3 separate regions of the Homo sapiens genome follow, and all the other regions are linked to region 2. The links come from fine-mapping of genetic effects on gene expression. A gene starts in region 2. Each other region holds a variant in brackets. All regions are shown on one strand. Distances are between the middles of the regions.

Region 1 (5,218 bases), 32 kb after region 2:
GCGAAACCCCGTCTCTACTAAAAATACAAAAATTAGCTGGGCATGGTGGTGGGCACCTGTAATCCCAGCTACTTGAGAGGCTGAGGCAGGAGAATCGCTTGAACCCGGGGGGCAGAGGTTGCAGTGAGCTGAGATTGCACCACTTCACTCCAGCCTGGGCAAAAGAGCGAGACTCCATCTCAAAAAAAAAAAAAAAAAAAAAAATCTGAAGTTATTAGTTTAAATCCTGGCTCGACCGCTTAACAGCTGTGTGACCCTGGGCAAGTTGCATCATACCTCTAGACCTCACTTTCCTCATCTATAAAATGGGAATAGCAATGTCATGGCCTCTGGCTGTTTTAAGGATTAAATAAGTAGGAAGTTCTTAGCCCAGTGTTTGGCACATAATAACAAACCATAATTAATATTCTCGTAGATGAGGAGATTGAGTCCCAGAAAGGAGAAAGGGGGAGGGCTCGCCCAAGGTCAGCTCCTGTTTCAGAGCTTGGAACAAGGTTCTCTGATCCCATTGGGTGCTCTCACACCTGTTCTGTGCCTGATTAGCACCAGGCAGGGCTGAGGGGCACTGGGATGACCTTGACAGTCCCTGTCCTCAGCCATCATACACTCCAGAGAAGACTGCACTCTGGAGCAGAGTTCTTAGCTCAAAGCATTCCCACTTTCCAGTGCAGAGGCAGGACATGTGGTCAGACCAGTGGCCTAACCTTGCCAGACTGGGGCTAGGCAAGGAGAGTGTTGCAGGTGGAATCGTGTCCCCCAAAAAGGCATGTTGAAGTCCTGGCCCCCAGTACTTCAGAATGTGACCTCATTTGGAAACAGGGTGGTTGCAGATGTAATTCGTTCAATTAAGATGAGGTCATACTGAAATGCATGGGACCCTAGCCCCATATGACTGGTGTCCTTATAAGAAGAAGAGACACAGAGGAGGGTGCCATGTGAAGACAGCAACACAGGAAAAATGCCATGTCAGTGAGAAAGGGGCTTTTGGGAATGAGAAGGCTTTCTGGATGTAAAGGTCAGGTTGGTGTGTCAGGGACAACCCCTTCCTGGAAACCTTGGGCTGAAAAAAAGGGACTGGGACCTACCCTGATGGGATGACCGTGATACAGTGAGGACAGCCAGGCTGGTGGAGGCTGTGCAAGGCAGGGGTGCTGGGTCATCTGTCCCTAAAGCGGGTAGCCCTCAGCTGGGTAAGGGGCTGGGTTACTGAGAAGGAGAAAAGGGAAGGCAGCTGTTAAACCGGCTGCTGACCTAGGAATCCCACTGCAATGAGAGAGTTCTGGGGGGAGGGTCTCTTCTCCCCCTCCCACCAGAACCTTCAACTGTCAAGCACCGAGCTAGCCACCAGCATGCTGTACTCCCCAGGTAGGCACTCATGGGGCCTTGCCCCACTCCTGTACCTCCTGCAGGCTAGAGCCTCCCCCCAGGGGAGGAGCTGTGTCCCGCATCAGACTGGGTGCCCCTTGAGGGTACAGAGAGTGACTCTTCCATCAGACTGGATGCCCCTTGAGGGTACAGAGAGTGACTCTTCCATCAGACTGGATGCTCCCTAAGGACAGGACCTGGGCCTCGTTCTCAGACTGTTTGGGGAAGGATAGGCCACTGGTGGTCAGACTGGGTGGTAGGCCGGGCAGGAACTCTTTCTCCTCTCCACTGACAGTTGGAGTTGGGGAGAGGAGAGGGGCCGGCCATCCCACTGTCATGGCTGCTGGGGAAAAGGGTTTGTGTGAAAAAGCCCACGTAGAGAAGAAAACTTTAGGGAACAGAGAGAACCTCTCCTAAGCCTAGAAAAGCAGGTCCCTCAGCCCAGGAAGATGAGATCCTCAGGGTGGCAGGGGCAGGACTACCTGAGGCAAGCCTGGGACCAGACTCCAGGAGATGGGGGAGAGTGGGCTGGGGGGAAGGGGAGGGCTGGGCAGAACTGAGTTGTTCCTGTGGGGCTAGGGTGCACAGAGGGCAGCCAGCCTTGGCCAGCAGAAGGTCAGCCCTGTACCTCACCCTCAGCCTGGGGCACCGTGAGACCATGGGCCCCTAGACCCAGCCTCCCAGCTTCTCAGGCCCTCCCTGTTTACCTGACCCTAGGAA[G/A]TTTAGGCCTAGCTGGTGACCCCAAACCCAGTCCTTGTTCTTCAGAAGTGCCCTGAGCCCAGGAGTTCAAGACCAGCCTGGTCAGCATAGCAAGACCTCATCTCAAAATATAATTTATTTATTTATTATTATTACTTATTAGTATTTATTTTTTTTTAAAGTTCCCTGACACAACATCTTAGTTTTTTCCCAGTGCCGGAAATCAAACTGTCCTTAAATCTATAGTCCCCTAATAACAATGTATTGCATTTAGAAAATCACTGAGAGAGGCCAGGCACAGTGGTTCACGCCTGTAATCCTAGCACTCTGGGAGGCCAAGGCAGGTGGATCATCTGAGGTCAGGAGTTCGAGACCAGCCTGGCCAACATAGTGAAACCGTGTCTCTACTAAAATACAAAAATTAGCCATGCGTGGTGGCGGGCGCCTGTAATCCCAGCTACTCGGGAGGCTGAGGCAGGAGAATCTCTTGAACCCAGCAAGTGGAGGTTGCAGTGAGCCGAGATCGTGCCACCGCACCCCAAGCCTGGGCGACACAGCGAGACTCCATCTCAAAAAAAAAAGAAAATCACTGACAGTAGATTTTAAGTGTTCTCACCACAAACAAATAACAAGTATGTGCAGTAATGCAGATATTAATTAGCTCAACTGAGCCATTCCACAGTGAATACATATTTCAAAACACCATGTCGTATACAACAGATATATACTTTTTTTGTCAATAAAATAAAACTGATTTAGTTAAAAACGATCTGGCCGGGCGCAGTGGCTCACGCCTGTAATCCCAGCACTTTGGGAGGCCGTGGCGGGCAGATCACGAAGTCAGGAGATCGGGACCATCTTGGCTAACGCGGTGAAACCCTGTCTCTACTAAAAATACAAAAAATAAGCCAGGCGTGGTGGCGGGCGCCTGTAGTCCCAGCTACTCGGGAGGCTGAGGCAGGAGAATAGCGTGAACCCAGAAGGTGGAGCTTGCAGTGAGCCAAGATCGCTCCACTGCACTCCAGCCTGGGCGACAGAGTGAGACTCCGCCTCAAAAAAAACCTCAAAAAACAACAACAACAACAACAACAAAATGATCTGTAGGTTCTCAGTCTGATGGAGGAGACAGGATGTGCAGCTGCAGCAGAAAGCTTCCTGTCCATTCATGCCTTTTAACATGCAGCAGCCCCTGCTTTCCACGCAGTTTCAGTTACCCGCTGTCAACTGCAGTCTGAAAACATCAGGATATTTTGAGACAGAGAGACCACATTCACATTACTGTTATTGTATTGTTGTATTTGTTATATTTTATTACTTATTATGGTTAACTGCTTACTGTGCCTAATTTATAAACTAAACTTTATCATAGGTATGTACATAAAGGAAAGACATAGTATTGATATATACAGGGTTTGGTACCACCCGCAGTTTCAGGTGTCCACTGGGGGTGTTGGAACGTACCCCTAGGGTTAAGGGGAGCTACTGTGTTGCTCTGGCCATCTGTCTGTGCTTCCCACAGGCAGCCTTGGTCTGTCTGTCTCAGCCTTCTCACGCTCCTAGCCCATGTGACAGCTTGGATCTTTTGCCCTCTCTAAGGGGATATTTTCTTTTGGGTTTTTTTTTTTTTTGGTGTTTTTGTTTGTTTGTTTGTTTTGAGGTGGAGTCTCACTCTATTGCCCAGGCTGGAGTGCAGTGGCCCAACCTTGGCTCACTGCAACCTCCACCTCCCGGGTTCAAGCGATTCTCCTGCCTCAGCCTCCTGAATAGCTGGGACTACAGGCATGTGCTACCACACCCAACTCATTTTTGTGTTCTTAGTAGAGACGGGGTTTCACCATGTTGGCCAGGCGGGTCTTGAACTCCTGACTTCAGGTGATCCGCCCACCTCAGCCTCTCAAAGTGCTGGGATTACAGGCGTGAGCCACAGTGCCCAACTTAAAGACATTTTCCATGACAACTGTGGTGGTGTGGATAGGTGTGTCAGTCCTTCCTGCAAGTCAGAGCTGAGTAATGACCTCACACCCTGGGGACTGGGTATGCAGCTTCGAAGCAGGGTTTGGGGGCCAGACAGTGAGAAATGACTTGTTGGGCTGGATGGTGACTAGGGGACAGAGGGCTCTGGGGAAATGAGACAAGGGAGTTAAGATGGAACCTGAATTGCCTTGGCCTGCCCTCTGATGTTCTTTCAGTCTTCTCAAACAACAGCATCTTCCCTGGTCCTTCCAGGCCCCCAGGAGAGCTCAACACCCTCAGTCCTCGGAGCAGCCAGGGTAGAGGCTGCCTGGAGTGACTGCACGGTGCAAGGGCATGGAGTGGTTTGCCTTATCGTGTGAATGACCTTAGATGATTCGCTCAACCCAGGTTTGTCAACCCCAGCTCTCTTGACATTTTGAACTGGAAAATTCTTTATTGTGGAGACTTTCCTCTACACTGAGGGGCGCCCAGCAGCATCCCTGGCCTCTACTTACTAGATGCCAGTAGCTCCCCTGAGACCTGCCCCAGTTATGACAACCAACACTGCCTCTAGACGTTGCCACCTGTTCCCTGGGGGCCGTAATCACCCCGGGTTGAGAACTTCTGACTCAATCTCTCTGTGGAGGCCCTGGCTTCCACCCAGCTCAGATGGGAATAGTCATCCTGATCCGCCAGCTTCACAGATAGGGATCAGGGGCTGAAACAGAAGGTGTTCAGCTCTCCCCTCTCAGGACTGCTTTCCACCCTTCCCTCGGAACCCTCTTCATCTGAAAGGGGCTCCACTGTTTAACCCCGCCCCCGCAGCCCCCCTCACAGTCTCTTTGAATAAAGACACACACACACACACACACACACACACACACACACACACACCTGTAATCATAGCCCGAGGGGGTGAGGGAGCTTCCATTACCATTTCTAAGATAATCCCAGAGGGCTTGGGTTAGAAGAGACAGGGTTTGAGGAAAATGGAGGGAGAAAAGAGCGAGGAGAACTCCCAGACTCTGGCTCTACCCACCCTCTTCCCTGCTTCCCAGCCCTGATGCTTCCAGAACCAGGACGTCAAAGTGCACCCCACCCTCAGGGGAATGGGATGTGCTTAGAATAGGGAAAGGGGGATAGTCATTCCCCCACAGAACCTCCCTGATGATCCCATCAACCTGGTGGCCCCTTTTCATGG
Region 2 (5,218 bases):
GTAATCCCAGCACTTTGAGAGGCTGAGTTGCGTAGATCGATTGAGGTCAGGGGCTGGAGACCAGCCTGGGCAACATGGTGAAACCCTATCTCTACTAAAAATACAAAAATTAGCCAGGAGTGGTGGCTCGCGCCTGCAGTCCCAGCTACTCGGGAGGCTGAGGCATAAGAATTGCTAGATCCCAGGAGAAGCTGCAGTGAGCTGAGATCGCACTGCTGCACCCAGATCTCCCCAGCCTGGGCAAGAGAGACTGTCTCAAAAAAAAAAAAAAAAAAAAAAAAAAAGGCCTTCTAGTGATCCTCAGAAATCCAAAAACCAGACAACTATGGCTTCCACTTCCATTTTTCAGATATCCATTATAATACTATTTGACCTCAAAGTGAATTTTATTGTTCCACACAAGCAACAGATTACACCAATTTCACAACTCCCAGAATCCAAACCTACAAAGACCCTTCCCACCAAGCACTTTACCAAAAACGGGCTTCATCTCCATCTTCCTTTCTTTCACAGTTGAAAAACTGCCCTTCCTAATTAAGCCAACCAACTTCTTACCTCAATAAAATCCTTGTTTTTCAGTAGCACGTACAGTATTTCCAGTGATGAACAGTGAACTGTCTTTCGTCTCACACAGTAACCTCCGTGAAGAAGATCCACCTTGTTCTTTACTGTATATTCCTGGCATGCTAACTGCATCCTCAGACAATTTTAAGTGACTGAAAACTCAGGCAAAGAAAGGCAAGAGGGCAAATAGAAGGGCACAGGAGACAACGCTTTTCAAATTTTTCTCACTGCGACCTACAGAAACACACTGTAGAACACCTCCTAGTACACTCACACGTGTGTGTACACCTGAAGTGTCAAGAAACAATACCCTAAGTGCAACACCCTCTGATATTTTCTATTTCAAGTGGCCGTGATCTACTAAACTGATTTCCAACTCACCAATAGGATTCAGTTTGAAAAACACTGCAATAAATCAAACCTTACAGTTGCATTCCACAAGCTACTAATGAACTCTTGAAAATCCAGCATACAGCAGAGACGCTGACCAACTACAAGATCCAAACCCCCCAGGTGGGCAGTGTCCTTCTGTTCAGCAGTGGCAGTTCCCCACCACCACCAGCCCTGAGAGTTAATTATCTCCCAAACTCCCAGAGTTTCCCAAGTAGCCTGAGGTGTCTGTCATATGCCCTTTTAACCTCTTTATAAATTCAGTCCCGTCCGTCTCTTACGGTGGCAAAGTTCATTTATCGTCGGCTGTGGAAAGCAATACTTCCTTTTTGTCCCCTCCAGGAACCAGAAATTAAATGACCAGGTTGGTGCCCGTTGTGCCTTTATGATCTATTTGTGTGGGTGATATATAGAAAGAGTCTCAGTCTCTCCCTTCATCTTTCCAGTCTTAATCACTGGTAGATGCAGTCTCTGGTGAAATAAGAAACCAGGGAACCCCCTGGCCTGGGGGAGGGCGCACTCATCAGCGTTGACAGAGTGAAAGCAAAAACTCAATCCTCACACCACAGAGGCGTCTGGCTAACTCATCTCCAGACCTAAGTTGGGAAAGGGGAGGGGAGCGCGGAAAGCGGAGAAGCCGGAGGAGACGCTCCGGAGTGACCAGCGACGGCTGAACGCAGCCCGCCCTCCCCAAGTCGACGCCGCAACCCGGGGAAAGCAGGTGAGCGCCGGCCACGGACTTGGGGGTCGCAGAAGCAGCCCACGGAGAGCGGAAGGGAGGAGGATCCGGGTAAGGGGCCTCCCCTCCCCGTCGGGACCCCCCTCCCCGTCGGGACCCCCCCCTCCCCGTCGGGACCCCTCCCACTGACGCTCTGCCTCCCACTCTGGCCTCTCCTCACTCACCCCGGGGAGTGGGCCTCCCCTACTGCAGAGAAAGGAAGAGGAGAAGGAGGGAATGAGGACTTAACGCCCACCCCTGCCCCCCACCATACCGCTCTCGCCGCCCGGGAAAATCCCGCCGCGGGCCCCACCAGCCAAGCGCCGCCTTCGCCCCACGCGGCCTCTTCCTAGCGCCTGCGCGCCAGGCCCAGCCCGGCGGACGCGATCTGAGAGTGCGCGCGCACCTTGCGTGCGCCGGCGTGCGGGGCGGGACCTGCGGGGCTCCGCCCCCTCCCCCTCCCTCCCCCCGCTCCCCCTCCCCCATACACTGCCGCGGCCGCCGCAGGAGCCCGGAGCTCGAGCCGCCCAGCGACTCCCCCTCCCCCTCCCCCAGCCCCGCCCCGCCCCAACCCGGGGCTCCGAGCCGGAGCCGAGTCTGCGCCTGGGGGTGAGTACGCGACCCCTACCCAGCCCTCGCTCTTTTCTTCGAAGATCCCACCACCACCCAAAGAAAAAACCTGGACTCAGCTGCGCGTCCCCTCCCTTCAACCTCCTGCGGGACCCAGAGGTGCCCGGGCCCGCGGGACCCAGGGGTGGCGCGCGCTGCCCCCAACCCCGCACCATCCCGAGCCAAATGTGAGTCCTCCAACCCCTGCCGGAGGTCCAGATACGCGCCGCCGGCTCTCCCCAGCCCCGGGGAGATCCCAAAGGGTGGGACCCCCGCCCCCGGCCCCCGAGTGCCACTCTTCTCCCACCTGCCCGGTGCAGGTGCGCGTCCCCTGCGCGACCCTCGGGGGTGCCAGCTGCGCCCCGCCTGTCCGCCGCCGTTTGGGGAACTAGCCGCCCCCGCCCCCGAGTTTTGGACCCCGGGGTCGCCAAGTCCGATGCCTTCTGTGCCTTTTATTTTTTCTGCTGCTCCCGGGGGCGAGTACACCCGAAGCCGGTCCGGGGTAAGGGCTCGGGCTCGGGCAAGGGCAGGGTTCGCAGGTGCTGGCACGAGGCCGGCCGCTGCCCCCGGCTCTGGGGACTGACTGGTCGGCGGGCTGGAGAGGCGGCCGGCCCCGGGAGCGTGTCCTCTCCTTGCGCCCCACACAGTGCAGTTCATTCATGAGCCGCCCGGGCCTGCGTTGGAGGGTGCGGTGGGGAAAAGATTCAGACGCGAAACCGAGAGTGGGGCAAAGGCCCTGTTGTGGGGAGGGGGCGCCGCTTTGTCCCTCCTGGCTGTCTTGACCGCCTAAGGCGGACAGTCCCAAAGCTTGGCACCTTGTTCCCCAGAAAAGGAAAGGACGCTTGGGAAGTGGGGAGGAGAGGTCAGAGGGGCTGGCTGCCCTTGGGGCGCTGTGCTGCCCCCTGCCTGGGTCCCCTGGGCAGAGGTCTGGCCGCTCGGGGCAAGCCTGAGCACTCCACCGCCCTGGGGGGCTGGGGCTTGCCTACCCATTACCAGTCTGCAGCAGCCGGGGAGCAATGAGGCTGTGCCCAACACCTGCTGAAGAGGGGCCCATCCTGCCTCCCAGGCCAGGGTGAGGTGGGGAGTGGGAGTGTCAGCCAGGCTTCAAGTGGGGGTGTGCTGGCAGCGTGATTGTCCTCCAGGGCACCAGAGGGTCCAGGCCTTGGCATGCCCCAGGTGGCACATGCTGGGGCCTGCTGTTGGCTCACTCAGTGCAGTCTTGGCCTGTGGGTGGATGGGGACATGGCAAGGCAGAAGGCAGGCAGTGGGTAACTAAGAACCCCCTTGGACATCATTCAAGTTCTCTCCAAGTATAGCAGAGTCTTAGAGACCTGCGTTCAAATTCTAGCTCTACTATTCTTCAGCTGTGTGACCTTGACAAGTTACTTAACCTGTCTGAACCTCAGTTTTCATTAAAAAGTGTTTATGCCTATAATTCCAGCACTTTGGGAGACTGAGGCGGACAGATCACTTGAGGTCAGGAGTTCGAGACCAGCCTGGCCAACATGGTGAAACCCCATCGCTACTAAAAATACAAAAATTAGCCGGGCATGGTGGCACACACCTGTAATCCCAGCTACTCAGGAGGCTGAGGCAGGAGAATGGCTTAAACCTGGGAGGCGGAGGTTGCAGTGAGCCGAGATTGTGGCACTTCACTCCAGCCTGGGTGACAGAGCAAGACTGTCTCAAAAAAAAAAAAAAAAAGAAAGAAAAGAAAAAGAAAAAAAGTGTGGTTACTACCACCTCCTTACAAGTTTTATCATGGGAATCAAACAAGGTAACAGAAGTAAAGAGCTTGGCATCCTTCCTGGTAATTGATCAATAATGGGTTATCATCTCTGAACTTCTGACCCATAACTCTCCCATGCCTCCACCTCCCAGGCTACCACAGATGGATGGGGTATGTTCAAAGAGTGAGAATATTCCCTGTCACTCAGTGGCAGAGTCCCTAACACAGTGTAAACCCTTAGGTCTAAATAAGAAGCCCAACCTGACTGAGGGGCTCTGTTATATTTCTATCATGTTACATTCTGTGTTTTTATCTTATTTTTGTTTTTACCAATTTTCTTTCTCTAAACCAACCCCTTTTATTCCATACCTTATTAATAACAATAACTAATTCCTAGAGCCCATTATATGCCTTGAACTATATTAAGAGCTTTACATAAGTCATCTTGTTTAATCCCCAGAACAACAACACAACTGGATTATTGTCCCATTTTACAAATGAAGAAACTGAGGCCCAGGGTGACTAAGTAATTTTCCCAGGTTAGAAGCCTGGTCTGTCACATCCTAGAGTCTGTGCTTTTAACCACCAGACTATGGTGCCTGTCCCCTATGCCTGCCTCAGAACCTGAAATCACAAACCCAAGGCCTGAGTGGAGGGAAGCTACAAGCAAGAGGAAAGGCAAGCAGGTAGAAATAGGGTATGGCATTTCTCCAGTGTGGTAACTGACTGCCTCCGGCTCCCTGGTGGAAGTGGCTCTTGTTTGCAGATAACTCTGCAAAGTGCAGTGGTTAAGAGCATACACTCGAGCCAGGCAGCCTGGGTCCTTATCTGGGTCTACCACAGACTGGCTGTGTGACCTTGAGCAGCTCATATACTCTCTCTGTATCTCAGTGTCCTCCTGGGGTTGTGATGGGGAGCAAATGAGTTACATTTGTAAAGTGCTTAGAACAGTGCTTGGCACAAAAGAAGAGTTAAATAAACATTTAATACTATTATTTTACTACTTTTTTTTCTTTTTCTGTTTTTCTTTTTTCTTTCCTTTTTTTTTTTAGACACGGTCTCTGTCTGTCGCCCAGGATGGAGTGCAGTGGCATGATCTTGGTTCACTGCAGCCTGGAACTCCCTGGGCTCAGGTGATCTTCGCACCTCAGCTTCCGGAGTAGCTGGGACTACAGACATGCACCAGCATGCCCAGCTAAATTTTGGTG
Region 3 (5,218 bases), 20 kb after region 2:
TGCATTCTAGCCCGGGTGACAGAGTGAGACTCCGTCTCAAAAACAAAACAAAACAAAAACAAAAACAAAAACGAAACAAAAAACAAAAAGAAACTATTCCCTCCAGCCATGGTGGCTCACTAGTGTAATGCCCACACTTTGGGAAGCTGAGGCAGGATGATCACTTGAACCCAGGAGTTCAAGACCAGCCTGGGCAATACAACAAGACCCCATCTCAGAATATTTGAAACAAACAAACAAACAAAAAAATGAACTATTCCTTCACTCAGCAAGCATTCTTCAAGCCTTGCCTGGTACCAGGTACTAGTGAGTCAGTGCCAGTTTCTCTCTGGTCAGTCTTAAGTCAAGGTAAGGATGAATCTGGGGTCAGGGTTAGGAGGTCAGTCTTGGGTCTGGGCAACAGGTCTGGGGTCAGTCTTTGGCCAGGGTGGGCTTAAGGGTCAGTCTTTGGCCAGGGTTACAGGTCAGTCTCACCCTGGTCAGGGGTCAGGATCAATCTCTTGTCTGTCTTGGGCCAAAGTTAGAGATCATTTTGTAGACTGGGTTATGGGTTGGTTGAGGTCAGTCTGTGGTCAAGGCTAAGTGTTGGGCTGTGACCAGGTCTTCTGGGAACAGGGTTAAGGAATTATATAGCCTATGACTAGATGCAATTTTTTTCAACCTAAAGGTCACAGCCCTGGACAGGAATCAGACCATAGCCCTGGCTTCCCTACCTGCATGCAGTATGTCCCTACACATCCTGGTTTGTTAGCCCAGCCTGCAGTCACACAGTGCTCAGGCCTTCTGCTCCCACTTCCCCACTCAGATAAGCATGAGGAGGAACTCCAAAGCTTTATTCTTGGGGAACTCTCAGTTTTGTAGACTAAGAAAAAGGCAGCTTGAATTGGAGATGTGGGTTTTTTTGTCTTTTTTTTTGAGATGGAGTCTCGCTCTGTCGCCCAGTCTGGAGTGCAGTGGCGCGATCTTGGCTCACTGCAACCTCCACCTCCCGGGTTCGAGCAATTCTTCTGCCTCAGCCTCCTGAGTAGCTGGGACTACAGGCACGTGCCACCATGCCCAGCTAATTTTTGTATTTTTAGTAGAGACAGGGTTTCACCATGTTGGCCAGGCTGGTTTCGAACTCCTGACCTCAGGTGATCCTCCCGCTTCGGCCCCCCAAAGTGCTGGGATTACAGATGTGAGCCACCACGTCCAGCCAGAGATGTGTTTCTTGAAGGTGATGGGGTCATGGATGAAAGTCAGGGGCAGGTGGGTGGGGTCCCTGCACAAGATGATACATGAACTGTGTTTCAGGGAAGCCTACCCCAACTGCACAGTTCTCGAAGCCCGCCCGTGTTACAACGTGGCTCGCCTAATGTTCCTCGATGCAGAGAGGTAAGGGACTGGGGGCAGAGGAGGGTGACACCAAGGGCCCCCTGCCATTGTGGAGGACATCTTGGCTACCACACAGGCTCCCCTTCTAGATTTTTTCCTAGGGCATTTGATTTTAATTCAACTCGTTGGTGTGCCTGTTAATTCAGCTCTGGAAAGAGCAAGGCCTGGAGGTTAGAGTTTGTTGTGAGGGGAAGGGGGGCCCATGGTCCCCACTGCATCTGAGGACATGCCCTTCTTTGGCTACAGTATGAGAAATTTAGGTCAGCCTGCAGGAAGAACTTCTGGCCCTCTAGGGATGGGTGGGGAGACCTTGGGATGTGGCCACATCTGAAACATGTATCCTAAACAAGAACAAGACAGCTCCTGTCCTTGGGGAGTGAGCTAGATGACCCCCAAGCTGAGCCAGCCCCAGCCCCAGATGTAGGTGACCAGGCATCTGGGTCCCACAGGAAGAAGGCCGAGCGGGGAAAGCTGTACTTCACAAACCTCCAGAGCAAGGAGAACGTGCCTACCATGATCAACCCCAAGCCCTGTGGCCACCTCTGCTGCTGTGTGGTGCGAGGCTGTGAGCAGGTATGACGCGGGCTGGCTGTTGAGTCGGGAGAAGTTGGACAGGTCCTGGGCAGGCAAGGCTGGGGCCCTGCCCTCAGTGAGTCCCCACCTGTCCCTGGAATCCTTGAAGCCTCAGTTCCCACTGTTGGGTTTGTCTAATGTCCCTACAGTGACCAGGTTTTCAAACCTCAAATTAGAAAATGTCAGCCAAAAGGACAATGTTGTGCTGTACCCACTGACTCTGGGGACTTGAGCAAGTTGCTTACTGCTCAGTGCCTCAGTTTCCTCATGGGGTTAACGTACCCACCTTATGAGAGTGTTGTGAGGGTAAAGTGAGTAATACATATAAA[G/A]AAGCTTAGAGGTGCTGGGTGCGGTGGCATATGCCTGTAATCCCAGCACTTTGTGAGGCTGAAGCAGGTGGATCACTTGAGCCAGGAGTTTGAGACCAGCCTGGGAAACATGGCAAAACCTGATCTCTACAAAAAATACAAAAATTAGCCAGGCATGGTACTGCACACATGTATTCCCAGCCACTTGGGAGGCTGAGGTGGGAGGGTCACTTTAGCCTGGGAGCTTGAGGCTCCAGTGAGCTGAGATTCCACCACTACACTCCAGCCTGGGCATCAGAGCGAGACGCTGTTTCCAAAAAAAAAAAAATGCTTAGAGGAGCAGTGCCTGGCTTGTAGGAAGCCCCAAGTCAGCGTGGGCTGGATGCTGCAGGCCCCAGCCTGGCTTTCCAACTAGAGGCCCTGTCCCTAACCCTCCCACAAAGGTGGAGGCCATTGAGTACTACACAAAGCTGGAGCAGAAGCTGAAGGAAGACTACAAGCGGGAGAAGGAGAAGGTGAATGAGAAGCCTCTTGGCATGGCCTTTGTCACCTTCCACAATGAGACTATCACCGCCATGTGAGTCCCCAACTCGGCCCTCGGCCCTGAGCAGCCCTCCAGGGCTCCCTGACCCCTGTGCTCATGGCCTTCTGCCAGCAGTGTGGCCTCCAGGTGGGCCTGTGGTAACCAGTGCCCATCTTTCTAGCATCCTGAAGGACTTCAACGTGTGTAAATGCCAGGGCTGCACCTGCCGTGGGGAGCCACGCCCCTCATCCTGCAGCGAGTCCCTGCACATCTCCAACTGGACCGTGTCCTATGCCCCTGACCCTCAGAACATCTACTGGTGAGCAAACAGGTGTCAGGGCAGGCTTTCCAGGGCCTGGGATGGGCTCAGTAGGTAGGCGGAGGAGAGGGAGTGTCTTGGTGTCACTGGGGGCCAATCCTGCCCTTGGTTCCTGGACTGACCGGTTCCCCACCTTGCCAGGGAGCACCTCTCCATCCGAGGCTTCATCTGGTGGCTGCGCTGCCTGGTCATCAATGTCGTCCTCTTCATCCTCCTCTTCTTCCTCACCACTCCAGCCATCATCATCACCACCATGGACAAGTTCAACGTCACCAAGCCTGTGGAGTACCTCAACGTGAGGCCTCATGCCCCTGTCACTTTCCACGCTGGGTCACAACACACAGATACCAGGCCCTGATCCCTCTTCCACTTGCCCAGCCCAGCCCGTTCTGCTTGTTCCAACCCCGTGCCACCAACCAGCTCCCAAAAACCCCTGTGTGCACTTCCCTTGGGCTCCCTGCCACCTTCCCCCTGAGAGAGGCCACCCTCAGGTGTGCAACACCTGGAGAAACACCCAGGGAAGAGAGAGAGCCTGCATTTAGTCCTGATCTCAGAGAAGTCCCCTTCCCTCACCCCTCAGTCTAACTGAAAAAATGGAAAGGTTCAACTAGATCAGTGGCTTTGGACTTGGATTCTGATCTCTTTATCGGTGTGAAACCCAGTGTGGAAAAGCAGGGCTGCTCCGATGACAGTAGGGTGGCATGCATGTCTGCCTGGCCTCCCCTCACCTCTCCTCCCACGCATAGAGCATACCTCTTTAGAACCTCAGAGTTTGAAGAAGGACAGTTTGCAAATCACTTGGAGTGATAATACCATAATAGATAAGACCCAGACTGCATGGATTCAAATCCCTACCTCATGGCTTGCTAGCTAGGGAAGCTATTGAATCTTTTTTTTGCCTCAGTTTACTCATCTGTCAAATGGGGTAACAGCATTATTGTGAGGATTAAGACATGGCAAGTACATCAGCACTGCTTAGAACATAGTAGATGTTCAGCAAATGCTGACTATCAGTATTATCCACCCTGGGGTTATACATATGGCCCTGGCCCCCACCCTCACCCCAGCCCTCCGGATGTTCTGGGCTTCCAACATGGGAGCCCTGAGAGTTGTGAGGCCAAGGGCCCAGCTGGGGAGGAGGCACATAAGCAAAGCCACCTGGGCCCCCTAGACTGCCCTGCCTGACGCCCCCCTGTGCCCTGCTGCAGAACCCCATCATCACCCAGTTCTTCCCCACCCTGCTGCTGTGGTGCTTCTCGGCCCTCCTTCCCACCATCGTCTACTACTCAGCCTTCTTTGAAGCCCACTGGACACGGTAAGGTGCCTCCACTCACACCACACCTCGCTGTGGCCTGCCCTCAATGACCCATCCTCTCTGGGCAGCACTTTGCCCTTCAGGCTCCTGGCCCTGGGCAGTCCCACAGCTGGTAGGGAAGGGGTAGTGCCCAGCACCCTCACCTTGGGAGGCCCACCCTTCCCAGGGGACACTCCTTGGACATTGTCCTTGTTGGGGGAGCAAGTCTGGGGCCTGGGCTCACTTGACCTGTACCGTTCCCTGCTCCCCTCCCTCCAGCTCTGGGGAGAACAGGACAACCATGCACAAGTGCTACACTTTCCTCATCTTCATGGTGCTGCTCCTACCCTCGCTGGGACTGAGCAGGTGAGTTGAGAAGGATGGGGCAGGAGCCAGGGTAGGGGGACAGCAGGATAGGGAGAGGAGAGCAGTTCAGCCTCCCTACCTCCCCTACAAAGCAAGGGGCCCAAGATGGGAAGCCTGGCCACCCCCAGGCCTCCTGAGCTACCCACCCCATGTCTGGGAGTCTCCCCAGTGGCTCACAGAGGAGGGACTTCCCCTCCCCTGGTGTTCTGTACCACTCCAGCTCCCACCCCATCTCTCCTCTGCTTCCCTCCAGCCTGGACCTCTTCTTCCGCTGGCTCTTTGATAAGAAATTCTTGGCTGAGGCAGCTATTCGGTTTGAGTGAGTGACTGGGGCCCCTAGGGAAAGAGACCAGACAGCAGGGGTGGGTATGCTTGAGAGACATTGCCAGCCCCATGGGAGGGTGCAACAAAGCTTCCAACTCCTGGAGGGGGCAGAAGAGAGAGGATCTGGCGGGGTTACC

The links.
Region 1: its variant is fine-mapped to the expression of TMEM63B in whole blood (TOPMed, PIP above 0.99).
Region 3: its variant is fine-mapped to the expression of TMEM63B in testis (GTEx, PIP above 0.99).

The regions. Positions count from the first base shown.
Region 1 is chr6:44,157,500-44,162,717 of GRCh38, forward strand. CAPN11 (calpain 11) reads left to right here and starts at 1,321. Exons shown (of 23, transcript NM_007058.4): 1 at 1,321-1,365. The coding sequence starts at 1,350. LOC107986599 (a long non-coding RNA gene) reads right to left here and starts at 1,104. Exons shown (of 3, transcript XR_002956350.2): 1 at 1,086-1,104. RefSeq lists an enhancer at 2,498-2,667 and a silencer at 4,051-4,140. The variant G/A (reference allele first, on the strand shown) is at 2,086.
Region 2 is chr6:44,125,398-44,130,615 of GRCh38, forward strand. It overlaps TMEM63B (transmembrane protein 63B), which reads left to right and starts at 2,157. Exons shown (of 24, transcript NM_018426.3): 1 at 2,157-2,281. It overlaps MRPL14 (mitochondrial ribosomal protein L14), which reads right to left and starts at 2,055. Exons shown (of 3, transcript NM_032111.4): 1 at 1,947-2,055. RefSeq lists silencers at 1,788-1,847, 1,878-1,927, 1,948-2,347, 2,388-2,497, 2,678-2,837.
Region 3 is chr6:44,145,554-44,150,771 of GRCh38, forward strand. It overlaps TMEM63B (transmembrane protein 63B), which reads left to right. Exons shown (of 24, transcript NM_018426.3): 11 at 1,294-1,374; 12 at 1,824-1,947; 13 at 2,699-2,832; 14 at 2,960-3,097; 15 at 3,239-3,392; 16 at 4,306-4,412; 17 at 4,671-4,757; 18 at 5,011-5,076. Among named protein-coding and RNA genes, the nearest start is that of CAPN11, 11 kb to the right of the region's middle. RefSeq lists an enhancer at 3,617-3,786. The variant G/A (reference allele first, on the strand shown) is at 2,277.